2 separate regions of the Homo sapiens genome follow, and region 1 is linked to region 2. A link means that fine-mapping ties the variant in region 2 to the expression of a gene that starts in the linked region. Tissue or cell type: whole blood. Region 2 holds a variant in brackets; the other region holds the start of a gene. All regions are shown on one strand. Distances are between the middles of the regions.

Region 1 (8,107 bases), 47 kb after region 2:
TCACACTTTTTTTTTTGAGATGGAGTCTTGCTCTGTTGCCCAGGCTGGAGTGCAGTGGCACAATCTCAGCTAACTGCAACCTCCGCCTCCCAGGTTCAAGTGATTCTCATGCCCCAGCCTCCCAAGTAGCTGAGATTACAGGTGCCTGCCACCACACCCGGGTAATTTTTGTATTTTTAGTAGAGATGGGGTTTCACCATGTTGGCCAAGCTGGTCTCGAACTCCTGACCTCAGGTGATCCACCCACTTCGGCCTCCCAAAATGCTGGGATTATAGGCATGAGATACCGTGCCCAGCCACATCCCTCACACTTTCTTCTTTGACATTCCTCTGCCATTTTCTACTTGATGGACACAGGCTGGGAAGACAGTCAACAAAAAAGGAAAATGTGCTATAAGATTACTACTCACACTTTCTCTCATGGCCTTCTCCCACAATTCAATAGCTACTCAGATCTCTGATCTACATCTTTTCCAAAGTATTCTCTCTTGCCTCTCCAAAATAAATCTTGCATTCCAAAGTATCAAAAATTACAGAAGAAAAAAGAAGTCTGCTCCTGCAGGAGACGTGCCCATCACCCTTGTTGGAAACAGCCCCTCTCCTGCCCTGTAGTCTTGCTGCTGTCTTTCCCGGGCATTCTGCTTTGTGTGCTGGATCCCAAACAGGTGAACTGGGGAAGCAGCAGCTTTGCCTTCCTTTGCAGTTTGCAGTTCTGGATTTTTCAAAATTTTTGTAGAATCCAATGGATTAGCTACATTTCTTTATACAGTGGAAAAAGCAGGAGTTAGGAGTCCGAGATTGAAACACTAAAACACTACAGGAGAGGTGTGGAGTAGCTATGTTAAAGTGGAGCTGCCAAACTTCCTAACAAACTGCTACATCTCTGAATATAGATGTTTTTCTCAGACTAATCCCTTGTTTGAACCAAGTATGCAATTTCAATGTGACACTTATAGTGGTCACTTAGTACAGATCTTAATTATTGATATACTTAAAGGAAACTTATTAGCCTCCATATATAAGGTATGTATAAACATACATTAGATAGGGAGAGTCCTATCCTTTCATGATGCTTCCCCGTATCTTTCTTTAACCTTAGCAGGAGCTGTTGAAACTGCCTCAGTCTTACGACCCTTATTGGGATAGTAGGTTGAAGAGCTGGAAGGAGGACTGAGAAAGTGTGAACATAATCCCTTATTTAGAAAATTTGGTACAGAAGGGCATATAAGCTATTTTAGAAATATACTTTGAAAAGGTAATTACAGAGTAGATTTTATTGTATAAAACTTATTTTATAAAATAGATTCTTTATCAATAGCTTTCTACTGGGTTTTGTTCACTTTACAACTTTATACCAGTCCTCAATGGAGTTTTAATATTTACCTCCAAGTACAATATTGGGGCAAATCTAAAAGGCAGAAGTTGATGAAGAGAAGCCTCATTACCCCCTAGATGCATTTTGTATATGCTTCATGTTATATAAATTCTCCAGTGGTGTTTGAGAGAAAATGGCTAAGTAGCATTACCATAAATTGAAAATAAATTTTTAGTATTTTTACATCCATCAAAGGCAAATCATCTCTTTCAGTGTTTTCTTATTGTCTGATCACTAAATAATTCCTGCCTTTGGTCCCTAGACCAAAGAGCTTCACACATTCCAAAGAGAAGCTGGATATTGACATTTATAACCACAGACAAATGGATAGGGAAATAGCTTGGGAAAACAAGAAGGATGAAGATGGCAGCATTTATAATTTCAGGGGAACCGTCCATAGATCACATATTAAGCATTTTGTAGAGTCTCTACCATGTGTTCGGAATGTACAGGTAGGTGCAGCAAGAGAGAATCAGAAGTCTAGGTTTGTTAGTTCAAAAACAGGTCCTGAAGTGACAGTTGAGTCCATGGCAATGTCCAGGGAGTCAGAAAGTCTTCACGCACGATTGGGTGGTGTTGGCTGGTGAAAACCTCAGGAGTCCCTGATGGATTGGTTTACTTCAAGCTGTTAGCTCTCCAAGCAGGCAAAAATGTAAACTAAGCACCTGGCATCTCTCCAAGGACACAGAGGGGCTCCTTCAGTGTTTGGGTAATAGAGGCCACCTGCACAAGCCTAGCCGTGCACATGTGACGAGGTGCATGCCATCACCAGCATCATGAAGCGGACACTCTTGCCAAACAATTGACCCAAATGGCTGGGGGTTCAAAATTCCAGTGCTTCCCCAAACAAGGCCACAAGTCTGCTCTGAGGGTGAGAGAAAATCGATCAGAGTAGCTGCTAGGAGTAAGGAAGGATACAGGATAACAAAACCTGTGGGGACCTAGCACAGGGGGAACAGAGTTAAACCTGGTGCTTTTTGCTTTGGGTCAGTGATAAAGGGCAGTGATTGCAGAGATTGCAAGAATTAGGGAAATCCTGAAATTTGTGAAGGAGATAAAAACAGGACTGAAGCAGATGTCGATGGGAACCAAGAGGTTAGTGATTGAAAAGTTAGTGCATTTTCACTGTAGTTAGTTGCTGCAGTGAACTTTTCCACCTTGGATTGTGGGGCAGGCAGAATAAATTATCAAGGCAATAAAGGATCTTATTTTAAAGGATTCTTTTGGTAGTTCCTAGCACACAGGGTCAAAGGAGAATAGAGAAGTGTGACTCAGAGCAGGGTTCATTTCCAGGTCCTTGCTGTAGATAGGATGATGCCATTCACACTCTGAGAAATCTCTTCCCATCGCTCTCCGAAGGAAGTCTAAACCAGATGGTAACTTAGCTTAGCTGCAAAGAAAATAAGAGCCACCAACAATTTAATGTTTTTCAAACTGCCTGGACAATCTTTTCCTTCCTCATACAGGCACGATAACAGAAGTGGCCGGTGGAGGGTGGCCCATTGAGTGCCCATGATGCAGTCCAACCAAGAAACAAAGTTCTCTGCACACCCCTCGCCCAGGCAAAAAGAGAAAGTAAAAGCAACCGGTTGCTGCCAAGGGGTGTGGTGTGGTGGGGCTGGCACTACCCTGAACATCAATGAAGGCTGTCTGTTTCTGGTCCTGCTTCCGCAGTGAGAGGCAGCAGGTCCCCAAGCAGGCGACCTGCCCTTCACCGTGAGGCTGTCAGCCTTGGGGGAGCGGGGTCATTTGGAGCTGATAAACCAATGAGAAGAAAGGTTTGTTGCTCTAGGCGGTGGGTGAGGGCATCATAGCTGACTCTTGGTCTTGGTCACTTTCGGAGGAGATGGTTTATTTAACCTGACTTCCTTCCTGATGCGCACCGTAGGCGCAGTGAAATCCGGGAATCGTGGGGAATCCTTGGCGCTGTGGGTGGAGGCTCCTCTTGGCCCTGTGGCCAAGGTGACCAAGGGCCGAAGGAAAAGCGAGAACGGGAGGGACGGGACGCAAGAGGGCAGATGGGGAACCCCATACTCCAGCAACATTATATAAGAGAGGCGACGATGGAGCAGCGCACCCGGCCAAAAAAGCCTCCGTGCGCCTACTCTACGGTGCACCGCGTCCCCTCTGCACCAGAAGGGCCCTGTCCTCCCACATCCACCGCGCCCTCCTCCGGGCCCCCGAGGGCACTGGGGCGCTTCCTCTGCCAGACCTCCCCTGCGACTCACTCTTCCGGCTCCAGAGCCCCCCCGCCCCAACAGCAAAGCAGCCGTGACCTGCCCCAGGGGCGCAGCCCTGCCCCAGGCTGGAAGGCAGCAGAGCTGTGGCGTCGAGGCACCCAGCGGACTGCGGGGCTGGCGTGCCCGCGGTTACCTGCGCGGCCAGAGGGCTCCGCGAGATCGAAGAACCAGAAGAGCAGCATGAGGAGCCCCGCCGGGCGGCGAGGGGTCGCCCAGCCTGTCCTCATCCTGAGCTGGCGCAAGCCTTCCGGCCGGGTCCTCGGGCGCACGCGGCTCCCGCCCCGCCTGCTGAGCGCGGCCTGCCCCGCCCGCACCTCTGTCTAGGCCTCTGGGGGCGCCCCGGCCCCGCCCCCGCCGCCCTCGGCCAATCAGACGTGCGTCTCCTCGGCCCCGGGGCGGAGCGGGCCAGGTGTGGGAAATGAACAGGGCTGGGCGCTAGATACCTGCGTGGGGTAGGACCCGCGAGGAAGAGGTACGTGCGGATCGGTGGGAGAGCCAGGCACCAGACAGGCTCCTGCACTGGAGGGTTCGGTCCCCGCCTCTTCATCAGCCAAGCTGGGGAGATGCGGCCCTTACTGGGACTTGGCACCGCCCTGGTGGGTGGGTTCTATCAGTTTAGAACCTTGGCCTCTGCCTGGCGCACTGTGGTCAGGGACGACTTCTCCATTCCAGCCTGGACTGGAAAGGGACCCATGATCTCTTCTACCCCGGAGGAGGAAGTGAGCACCTGCCCTGTGGGTGGCTGCGGCCAAGCCTAAGAATTCAGTCGTCCTTGGCAACGTCTTGGGTATTTTGACAGTGCAAACAAAGGTGGAATAATGGTACACTGCAGTTCTACCCATAGTTGTTAAAGAATTAAAAGCAAGAATTACTAGAATGACCAAACGACACTTCCAAGGATGACTTATGCTTTATAAAAAGTTGACCTTTGCGAGTAAGCTCTTTGCTTAATAATTTAATGATAATAATAATTAGCTGGTAGAAATGTAGAAGTCTGCATGCAGAACCAGAAATTTCATGTCCCACTCACTCTCTTCCTGTGGACACTGCTATCATTATAAAGAGGCCAAATTCTTAATGACCTAAGTTGCTCAAATGTGAATGTTTTATACTTTTAAATCTCGTCTTTGCTGAGCACATAATGTGTACTTGAGGTGGCCTCCATCCTTGTTGCATGAGGATGCAAAGACCTAGGTTGCTCTTCCTGACTCCCACTGCCAAGGTTTCACAGTTGGCTCCCAAACCTGCTCTGTCCTCTCCCCAGGGTCTGGCCTTTCAGTTCCATAGATATAGTGAGCACCTGCCATCACAGGATCTGGGCACGCCATGGAACAGAAGGACAAAAAGACAACATCTCTGCCCTCCCCTGAATACTGGGGAGACTGAGGCACTGTGATGGATAATATTGTCAGCTCGATTGATATGAACGAATGCAAAGTATTGTTCCTGGGTGTGTCTGTGAGGGTGTTGCCAAGGAGATTAACAGTGGACTGGGAGAGGCGGACCAGCCCTCAGTCTGGGTGGGCACCATCTCATCAGCTGCCAGCATGGCTAGAATAAAAGCAGGCAGAAGTTGGAAGGACTTGACTGGCTGAGTCTCCTGGCCTTCACCTTTCTCCCGTGCTAGATGCTTCCTACCCTCGAACATCGGACTCCAGGTTCTTCAGCTTTTGGACTCTTAGACCTATAAAAGTGGTTTGTCAGGGGATCTCTGGCCTTCGGCCACAGACTGAAGGCTGCACTGTTGGCTTCCCTACTTCTGAGGTTTTGGAACTCGGACTGGCTTCTTTGTTCCTCAGCTTGCAGACAGCCTATTGTGGGACTTCACCTTGTGATCATATGAGTCAATACTCCTTAATAAACTCCCTTTCATATATACATGTATCCTATTAGTCCTGTCCCTCTAGAGAACCCTAATACAGGCACACTCAGTGACACAGGGCAGAATGAATGGGGAAACTCTGACAAATGTTGAGGGAAGGCAACATCTTAGCTGGGTCTTAAAGAATGGGTAGGAATTTGAGCAGGCACAGCTGGTGGGAGAAAACCAGTGACAGGGCAGAGGCCAGAAAATGCAAGCAGAGTCAGAAGACAGTCCAGAGTCCAGGGTAGCTGCCCTGCGGGGGGTGTGTCTGTGAGAGAGATCAAAGTGGTTGTGGTGGGGGCCCCAGTGGAAATGACAGCAGAAAGGTGAGTTGTGTCTGTTTTGTGAAGGGCCTTGAATTTATTCTAAGGCACAGATGGTGGGAAGTTCTGAGTAGGAGAACCTGCCACTGACCTGATCCCCTCTGCCTCTGTGGCTGCCTGCCTTTCTTTCTGATCCTGCCCAGCTTGGAGCTCCTTGAGGGCAGTGGTCTTGCCGTATTCATTATCACATCCTCAACACTGGGCACAGGGCCTGTCCCAAAGTCAGCTCTCAATAAATGTTAGTTTAATCGATGGATGGATTCCTAGGGCCACCACCTTAGCCTAGGGCCATATGAGCTCCTACTTGCATTATATTGCAATAATTTATCAATTGACCTCACTGCCAACAGTTATTATCCTCTCTGGCAAATGAATCCTTCTAAACACTGTTTGGAACATGCCACTTTTCTACTCAAATCCTTTCAGTGCTATTTGCATATAGCAGGAGCTCCTAAATGCTACTTAAGGGAAATTATGAAACCCTGAAATTTTATGCAGCTTTATAAATGCACTATGTTTTGAGGAGGAGGAGGAAGGGTACAAGGCTTTCATGAGAATCCCAGAGAAGCCCATGATACAAAAAGAAAACTCTAAGACAAAAAGCAAGTACCTCTACAATTTGACCCTTTCTCTTTCTTTGAGATGGAGTTTCACTCTTGTTGCCCAGGCTGGAGTGCAATGGCGCGATCTCAGCTCACTGCAACCTCCGCCTCCTGGGTTCAAACGATTCTCCTGCCTCATCCTCCTGAGTAGCTGGGATTACGGGCATGCATCACCACGGCCAGGCTAATTTTGTATTTTTATTAGAGACAGGGTTTCTCCATGTTGGTCAGGCTGGTCTCGAACTCCTGACCTCAGGTGATCCGCCCGCCTCAGCCTCCAAAAGTGCTGGAATTACAGTTGTGAACCACCGTGCCTGGCCTAATCTGACCCTTTCTCTTTACTCCCTTCATATGTCACTCTTTGGTTCAAGCTACCTGTCTGAACCTGTCTTGCCTTTTCTTATCTCTGCCCATATATGCATATCCAGAATGCCATTTTCCCTTTGTCTTAGTTCCAACCTTTCTTGAAGTTTCTGTTTAGATCTGACATTTTACGTAAAACACTTCTACCAAGGGGTTAACCTTCTTCCAAATATCTACCTAATAGTGTGAATTCCTTTCACTTGGTATTTAACATGTATTACCTCTTGCCACGATTTTTTCTTCAGGGACATGTGCACTGATTATTTCACCTAGGTTATAGATTCTCAGTAAATATTGTCAATGGTGACAATAAAAAGCAATGTGTCCTTCAGGTCTCACCTTGGACGTTACTTTCTCAAAGAAATTTTTTTTTTTGACTCTACAGTCTAGGTGAGCTTCCTCTATAACAGGTTCTCCAGGCTTCCCACACTTCTTCCTGATAGCACTTAGCACAGCTGGAGTAGATCATTCTGTGCTTGCTCATTTGTTTAATGTGTATCTCCCTCACCAGGCTGCAGGCTCCATGAAGACAGTGACTATGCCTGCTTCATTCACTTCTGTGTCCCTAATACCTGGCACATGATTTGCTGCATGAATGAATAAGTAAATATATAGTAATACCTCATAAATGATGCAGGCAATGGAAGGTCTAGACATTTAAAAGAGGGGAAAATTGGCTTGGGTGGGGGCAGCAGTTTTCAGGCATTGAACTGGATGTCCTTGGATGAGAAGCATTCAGTAGATAGAGGCAATGAAGATGCTACAAGCTGAGACAATGGTATAAACAAATTACAAACATCGGCCACCCACTGGAAGCCAGACCATGTGCTAAGCATTTCCCATGTACTCTCTTGTTTAGGAATCATCCTACAAAGTAAGTACTCCTATAATCCTCATTTTATAAATGTGGAAACTAAGACAACACAGAGAAGACTGATACCTAGACCAGGTTAGTAGCCACAAGTGAAGACACTATGATGGAAATCTAACTATAGAACTTGAATGAGTGTGTGAGAGTGTTAGTGATATTTTATTCCCAATCACAATTAGGGAGGAGGGGAAAAGGAGCTTTTAGAATCTCTGAAGTCACGTTTTTTAATTATAAAATAAATCATACCCCAAAAAAGAATAGCTATGCTTGTTGGCCTCTTGTGGTCATATTCACCTTACTCCCACATAGAGGTAACCTCTCCTCTGAATTATTCATCACTGTTTCTTTACCGTTTTCCCATATATGATTCATTCCTTAAAGAGTACCTATAATTTTACATGTTTTTGAATTTTATGTAAATGAATCATTTCAAGGGTTGGGTTTTTTTTGTCACTTGTCTTTTTGCTTT
Region 2 (8,107 bases):
TAGTAGAAACAGAAACTCAAGTTAACTATAAAGTTGACTTTTAGTAAAAAATGTGACAGGAAATTAGAATGATCTATATTATCTACTGATGTTTACCTTATAAAGTGACATTTATTATTAATCTTGTATATTTTAAAACATAAGCAATTCTACTTAATTTTTCTAACATGAAACAAATTTGGATGCTGTGAGGCAGATTTTACATTAAAGAAAAATTTAACTTTTGTAGATTTTGGCAAAATTTTTGTAATATTTTTAAATGGAATAAATACAAAAATAAGAAATATATTTAAAATATATTCTTTTAAATTACATTTGCTATTTTGTTTTTGATGGCTTTTAGTCCCACAAAAGATGTTATAGTTGCAAGAAAGCTGTGATTGCTGGCACAGTACAGGACGGCTTCTTCATAGTTTAGGTGAAGATCAGCAACAAACCAATATTCACTTCCTTCAATTATAAGTGGAGGTCCATGAATTCCAGCACGGTCTAAAGAAGAAGAAGAAAAAGATTAGAATTATGACTATGCAAAGCAAACTGTGTCCTCTAAGCATGAGTTAATGTTCAAAACTATAAATAGTAATTCAGATTACCGGCCCTCTCTGGCTGGGGCAGTACTGACTACAAGGAACAAGAGATTCCTGAGCCAGTGACTCTGCCACTCCCCTACACTCACAGGGAAGGAAAAAGTCACCCTCATCACCTCATCCCATACCAGTCGCTCACCTTCCTTGCCTGGAGAAATTTTGTCTCACTTGAAGATGTATAGAGAAGAAGCTGGCACTTAAATAATTAACTAAATGCATTAGTGACAAGGTAAAAGCAGCTTTGGTTAAATTTCAGTTTTCTTAACTCACCTGGATTGTACCAGTCTGGTGTTTTTGGAGTACGGCCTGTATGAGGAAGAAAGCAAGTGGCATTAGTATTCCATGACAGATCAGGGTATACTATAAGTACGGCCTTTAATGTAGCTCGAAAGGACTTGCAGTATTGTTGAGTCTTGTCCATTTCTGGCCAACCCACTTCACGTTTTGATCACTTTAGTTGTATTTTGTAGGGCCGATGCTAAACCTGCTTCAGGAGAAATCCAAAAGGCAGATACGTTAAATATTAATGAAGTATTTCTAGCAGTCTTTTACCTTGTGTCACAGAGGTCACAAAAGAAGTAAGACAGATAAAATATAGCTAAGAATTAGAAAGTAAAAACAAGTAAATAATGATATTGTATGTGTTACACAGAAGCATAAGAAGTAGGAACCAAAATAACGGTCATTGAAAAGGGAAGTTATTCAGGAACCACTTCTGCATCTAATGAAACAGGTTAACTGTTCTGTAAACTTAGGTTGATAGAGTTCATTGTCTTCCAAGATATCCTTGGAAACAATGTACAATGCTCCAGTGTTGAACCTTTTGAGAAGATGAGACAAAACTGAGAGGAAAATAATTAAAAGTGACTCAGGATTCCCAGATGGAAACGGAGTAAATAATGGCATGCTACACAGAATTCCGGGTTGGAAGCTGGGCGGGTCAGTGTGCAAATGCCCTTATGCATTTTGCTGCCATGGTATTTCGGATGAGTGGCTTAACCCTCTCTGAGCCTTGATTTTCTCCTCTATGAAAACTAGATGGCTACCTGACTCACAGAGAGTGAAGGTCACGTGTGATGCCCTGGAGGAAGTGGCCAGCACAGGACCAGGCACAGGGAAGTTCCCCATGGGAGCCTATTTGCGTTCCTCCCCCTTTTCATTCTGGCCACAGATCACACTGGCTTCAAGTCAAAGACATCATTTGCTTAATCTTAGAAATTACAGAGTAAAATAGCTGGTCTTAATTTTGGTGTGGCATGTGAGCCTCAGGCAGGCATCAGAAGACCTGACTCAGAGGACTGCCTGAATAGCCAGCATCTTTAGTCTCTCTCTGAGCCAGTTCTATTCGTATTGGATAATTTCCAACAATAATGTTGCAAGTCAGTTCAAAATGTACATAGTTTCTTGTCTGTAATCTTGTCAAAGACTTCTGATTATTTGTGTGTGGGGGAGGGAAAGCTATGGCTAACCTTTAAATATCTTTAAATTAGTGAGAAAAGTAGGATGCAAGGTGTTTTTTATACAAGATTGCAAACATGTATGTGTGTACAAGGTATCAAGAAATACAATAAAAATTGCTATGTCTGGGTAATGGCATCATAGGTAATTTTCCTAAAAACACTTTTATGAGCCTTATTTTTGACACAGTTTTCTCAAAAAATAATATTTAAAAAGTACAAATATCCACTGTGGTTGAGGTAACTTCAAATTTACAGGTTGTCAAAATATCTCTTTTAGGGAAGAGAGGATTAATTAGAACCAAGTAATAAAAAGGCAAGAGCCAGAGAAGAGGCATGGTGATTTAGAATACATAAGAGGAAAACTTCTTTAAGAAAACCAGAAAATACAGATGAATACAAGTTGAGTAAACTTAGGCTGCTCTAATAACCAAGAAAATATCCAACCAGCTGAATGCATCACATCGTAACTTAGAAAGTTAGGTACAGTACGGTCAAAAAAGGGTGAACATAACATTTAAACCCTGGAGCAAGCAATCATTGATTTCTTCAAGTGATTGGGACAGGCTGAGAACAGGAGTTTAGTTTTTTATTTTATTTCTGCATGGGGATAATGGAGGTGGAATTATTTAGATTTGTTCGATTAATTGATTTATATTTTTAAGTGGGTTAATTCCTTTCTCTCTTGTTAAAAAATATATATTAAAAAAAATATATATACACCTCCACATGCCCTTCATACTATTTCCTCTGGTGGCTAATTTGCCATTTCTAAGGTTGCCCTTGTTTAAACTCTGGGGTCTGCTCCACTGCTCAAACAGGAGGTGGGGGCAGCAGCTCCCATCGAGGGCACTTTGGTTGGAACAATGACACTGTCTGTGGAATGCTAACAAATGCCAGAGAGTAATGGGAGGCTCACATTAACACTTCAAAACAGAGACATTGTCCGAATTAATTATATACAAGTTACTTTTCCACTTGTTTAAAGGATATCCAAACTGGTTTTCCTTTGTCCCTTTTTTGGGTTTAATAAAATAATCAAGAATAACTTAGGCATAATTTATCCTTTAGAAAAACCCATCAACACAACTGTCTTTCCCTTACAACTGGTTTGACAGTTTGCCTTTGTGAAAGAGATTTGCTACTACCTGATGTCACATCTGAAGCTCTTTTAACTATTTTAGGAATAACAATCTTCTAATAGGCAGTTCCATGATGTGAACTTTGGGTTCTTTGAGAACTTGTAGGAGGATATACCTTTAGTTTCAATGATCTGTTTACATTCAGTTCAGAGATTTCTTTAAAAACCTTCTATGGGTTTTCTGCTAATTAATTTCATACAGCCAATCTCTGCTTAAAAATAATTTGAGGCTGGGTGCAGTGGCTCATGCCTGTAATTCTAGCACTTTGGGAGGCTGAGGCGGGCCAATCACCTGAGGTCAGGAGTTCGAGACCAGCTTGGCCAACATGGTGAAACCCTGACTCTACTGAAAATACAAAAATTGGCTAGGTGCGGTAGTGGGTGCCTGTAGTCCCAGCTACGCCAGTGGCTGAGGCAGGAGAATCACTTGAACCTGGGAGGCAGAGGCTGCAGTGAGCCAAGATTGTGCTACTGCACTCCAGCCTGGAAGACTGAGCAAGACTGTCTTAAAAAATAATAATAATAATTTGAGAATTAAAGTCTTAACATTTTTCTTAATATTTCATGTTTTCCTGGAAAAAGTAAAGTAAAATGGTATCTACATTTCTCCCCACTCTCCCTTCTGTTATCAAAGGCTATACTATCAATCTAACTGGCTTCTCAAATTTGAATTTATATAAAGTATTAGCAGTTTTATAGTTCATTGAAAATTGCTTCTAAATTTTACAGGGACCTGCCAAATTTTTATTTCTTGACTTCTGCCTTATTCTTCCCAAGATTATCTTTATTTTTTCATTTTGCATCAAAATAAAAACGAAAATGATTCTGCATTTCTCCTTTTGCTTAAAATAATATTTCATCCAAAATCTAATCTCCCTGAATGAGCCTCACATTTTATCTTCTATGCAAATTCTTCCATGATCAAAGAGTAAGATATCACTAAATTTCAATAAGCTAGCCTTCTATTAGAAGCCGGAGTCAGGCAGGGGGTGCTCCACATATTAATTGCATCATCATCATAGGCTTTTAGACATCAGAATTATAGATCAAAATGCTCCCCTAGCTACTTTGAGCTAGGCATTCACAATGTTAACATGAGAAGGTTGTGAAAAGGAATAACTACCACTTACCTTTTGGAATTTGGCACACCCATTCAAGTTTTGTATCACAAGCAAAAGGCCTCAAATAAATAAATTCTCTATCATCATAGAAATG[C/T]CAGCCTCTTCGCCATGGCCTATGAAATACCTATAAGAGGAAAAGTATTGCAGAATATTTTGAAGTTGATACATCCCTTATGGAACACTAAACTGTAAGCCCTATGACTTTGATCTCTATTTTAGCTCTAGCACCTAAGATATTTGTTCGATAAATGAACACATGAATTAATGGAATATTTAAACAGTAATACCCTGAGCAAGAGCCCTCAAAGGGGCTAACAAAGGAAATATGTTGTAAAGTCATGTTTATGTCCAAAATGCAAATTTTCTCCCCCACACCTGACAATTTTTGTTAGAATATTTATTTCAGAGGTATCCAAGCACCAAGCTGTGATCAAATTAGATCAGAAAGCGACATAAAGGTCCAGCCTCAGTGGCTCAGGCTCCTTCTCTGGTGTTACCATGCCATTTCTAGGATTTTGCCCTTCTCCACATGGTCCAGGATGGCTCATTACAAATTCCAGTCAGCAAGTAGGATAAAAAGGATAGGGGAAGGCATTACTTGGGAGAGACATCCATCACTTCTTAGACTATTTTCTCTTAAGACCAAGTTTCTGGGGGTTCTGTGGCAGGTGAGGTAAGATTTTCCTTACAGAACACTGCCCTGGCTGGGCTTGTTCCTGATGCAGGTTGCATTAGTATCTCTTTATTTATTTGGTAGATTTTCAAATCTCTCCATACTTGGCAACTCTATTTCCCTAGAACACAGTTTATTGTACCAGTGTTCTCAACACTACTAAAAATTCCATAAGCTTCTCTGAAGTTTTCACCTTTTCCTGTGTTACATTGGGAATTCTATAAAAATGACATGTACTACACAGTTTATTACTAGAAGAGTTACTTTGAAAACAGTGCTTTCCTGTGGTTTTGTCAGTTCTTATATCCCTCAGCCTTCCTGTAACATTTCTGGTCAGCCACCTTGTTGAATCTCTTTCTTGGACTACAAATCAAAGATATTAACTGATGTCTCCTCCATCTTCATCTTTTTTCACTCTATATATTGGCAGTTCCTCCAAATCCACTTCTTGGCCCTTTTTTTAAAAATATACATTTTCCTTTCAACTCAAGACTCTTGATCTCAACTTACCATAGCATACATCTTATAGCTAGCTTGGATTCAAAATATCTGAACTAAAACATACAATTTTCTCATAAATCAATACCCTTTCTATTTCTATAAATGCCTAGTCATATAGCATAGTGGTTAAGAGTACCAGACCCAGACACACATGGGTGTAAATTTCAGTTCTTTCAGTTTAAATTTACTCCATGTAAGCTGGGGTAAATTACTCACAGCTCAAATTTCCATGTGAGATGAATACAGTAACAGTGCCTACCTCACAAGATTGCTTATGTGCTATGTGACATATGTGACATGCCTAGTATAGTGGCTGGCTCATAAAGGAGTTAATCAGTGTTAGCTGCTCCATCATCATCATCACCACCACCATGGACCATCACCATCACCATCCTTATTATTCTTTCATAATATTCTTGTTCTTGCATAAAACTTGTATTTCGCATGTCATAGTCTTTACTCAGTGGTGTTGTAATTGCTTGTTTACTTGTCTTTATTTCCTACTAGACTTTAGTTTTGTGAAGACAATGGCTATGCTTTGTACCTTGTCATTGTTCTATCACCCAGTGCCTCACTGACTCCTTGGACTGTTTATGAAATGGATACATGAATGCATTCTGCAAAGGAAGATGCCTCACTGGTCTTCTATGCCTTCCAATCTTACCTGTTGCTTTTGACATCTGTCTCAAGATGAATCTTCCTCATACCCTCCTTAGTTCATGTGACCCTCCCTACTCAGAAACTTTAAAAAATGCCCTGTTGCCTATCAAGAAGTGTAGAAATTCCTTAAAGTGGCATCAATCTGATTTCCTAATACTGTTATCAAGGACAGCACCAATGAAACTTCTTGATCTGTATTCTGTTCTCCACTGCCCTCTTCCACTTCCACCTTATTTTATACCACTTTCTCATACCATCCCCTCATGAAAAAACCTTACCCTATCCCATTTGTAGAAACTCTATCCATCCTTAAAGTCCCAGTTCAAGTCCCACCTCTTCCTGGGAAATGGCCATGGGACTCACTTTCTCCTCTGAATTTCATTAGCCTTCCTCAGCCCCCTCATTTGGAGCATATTACTGCGTGGTAATGAGAGAGGTTTTCTTGAATATGAATTTTATCCTCTCAAATGAAGTGTAAGTTAGGCTGCTGAGGGCCAGGCCATGGGTGTGCTTATCTCTCACTGCATCTAACATCATGCTTCACATAAAAAGACACTCCATGGATCTGTTACTTGACTGCATATGATGATGGACTTATGTTTTAAATATGCAGATTTTCCAGCATTGTACTGACCTTGACAGCAGCACAGTCTCTGATGTCATAATCCTGCTGAAACTCATTTGGCATGATAATAGTAGACACCTGAAAAGACAAGAGAGGCTTGAGAATTTAAGACTGATGTATAAATATTTGCAATTTAGATGTAATTTAGGCAGCCTTAATCACTCAAGTGCGTTGATATGCCACAGAAAGAAAACTTTTCCATCTCTTTTTTATATCATGATGCTAAATCATGAGAGGACTTAGCAAATGTCATAATGTCATAAGTTTCCAAACAAAGGAAGCCACAGTTTCAGAAGTGGAAGTTAATAGTGTATTAAGTTCGCCGCTGGAGTCATAGAGAATCAGGTTTGCAAAATACTTTTTTCTTTTTTTGCATGTGTTGAAATGCTCATTATTTGATTAACTAATCTCAGATATGCTCCAATTTGAAAATAAACTCAAGGAGTTTTACATTTAGAAAGAATAAAAAAGGAGGTGACATTGGAGTCACCAATTTTTGGTGACAAAAATTGGAGTAAATATTGAATATCTGAGAATAATTTTGCTCCTATAACTATTACACTAATATATCCTTATAATATAAATGTGGAATAATAGCAAGGATTTTCTAGAGGTTTCTCCAAACAAATAATTTCCTCCAATAAGGATACTTTTGGCCAGGCACAGTGACTCATGCTGGTAATCCCAGCACTTTGGGAGGCCAAGGTTGGCAGATGGCTTGAGCCCAGGAATTCGAGACCAGCCTGGGCAACATGGTGAAACCCCATCTCTACAAAAAATACAAAAATTAGCTGGATGTGGTGGCATGTGCCTGTACTTGAGAGGCTGAGACATGAGGATCAATTGAACCCAGGAGGTTGAGGCTGCAGTGAGTCATACTGGCACCACTGTATTCTAGCCTGGGTGACACAGTGAGACTCTGTCATCCCCACCTAGTCCCCCCAGAAAAAGATATTTTATTTTTTGTATAACTCTTCCATATTTAGATAATAAAAAGAAAAGCTTCTTACTATAAAAATGAAAATAAACAGTATAAAGAGAAAGCTTTGAAAACAATCACTTGTGGCCAGATGTGGCTCACACCTGTAATTCCAACACTTTGGGAGGCTAAGATGGGTAGACTGCCTGAGCTCAGGAGTTTGAGACCAGCCTGGGCAACATGGTGAAACCCTATCTCTACAAAAAAATATAAGAATTAGCTGGGCGTGGAAGGGCACGGTAGCTCACACCTGTAATCCCAGCACTTTGGGAGGCTGAGGCGGGTGGATCACAGGGTCAGGAGTTAGAGATCACCCTGGCCAATATGGTGAAACCCCATCTCTACTAAAAAATTAGTTGGGCG

Evidence for each region. PIP is the estimated chance that this variant, and not a neighbour inherited with it, causes the effect.
Region 1: it holds the start of LY75, and the variant in region 2 is fine-mapped to the expression of LY75 in whole blood (TOPMed, PIP above 0.99).

Annotation. Positions count from the first base shown.
Region 1 is chr2:159,900,841-159,908,947 of GRCh38, forward strand. LY75 (lymphocyte antigen 75) reads right to left here and starts at 3,916. Exons shown (of 35, transcript NM_002349.4): 1 at 3,749-3,916. The coding sequence starts at 3,842. LY75-CD302 (LY75-CD302 readthrough) reads right to left here and starts at 3,916. Exons shown (of 38, transcript NM_001198760.1): 1 at 3,749-3,916. The coding sequence starts at 3,842. RefSeq lists enhancers at 2,828-2,877, 2,928-2,977, 3,198-3,247, 3,388-3,467 and silencers at 3,648-4,107, 3,877-4,118.
Region 2 is chr2:159,854,047-159,862,153 of GRCh38, forward strand. It overlaps LY75-CD302 (LY75-CD302 readthrough), which reads right to left. Exons shown (of 38, transcript NM_001198760.1): 15 at 6,775-6,843; 16 at 4,316-4,430; 17 at 858-893; 18 at 314-489. It overlaps LY75 (lymphocyte antigen 75), which reads right to left. Exons shown (of 35, transcript NM_002349.4): 15 at 6,775-6,843; 16 at 4,316-4,430; 17 at 858-893; 18 at 314-489. Among named protein-coding and RNA genes, the nearest start is that of LY75, 47 kb to the right of the region's middle. The variant C/T (reference allele first, on the strand shown) is at 4,401.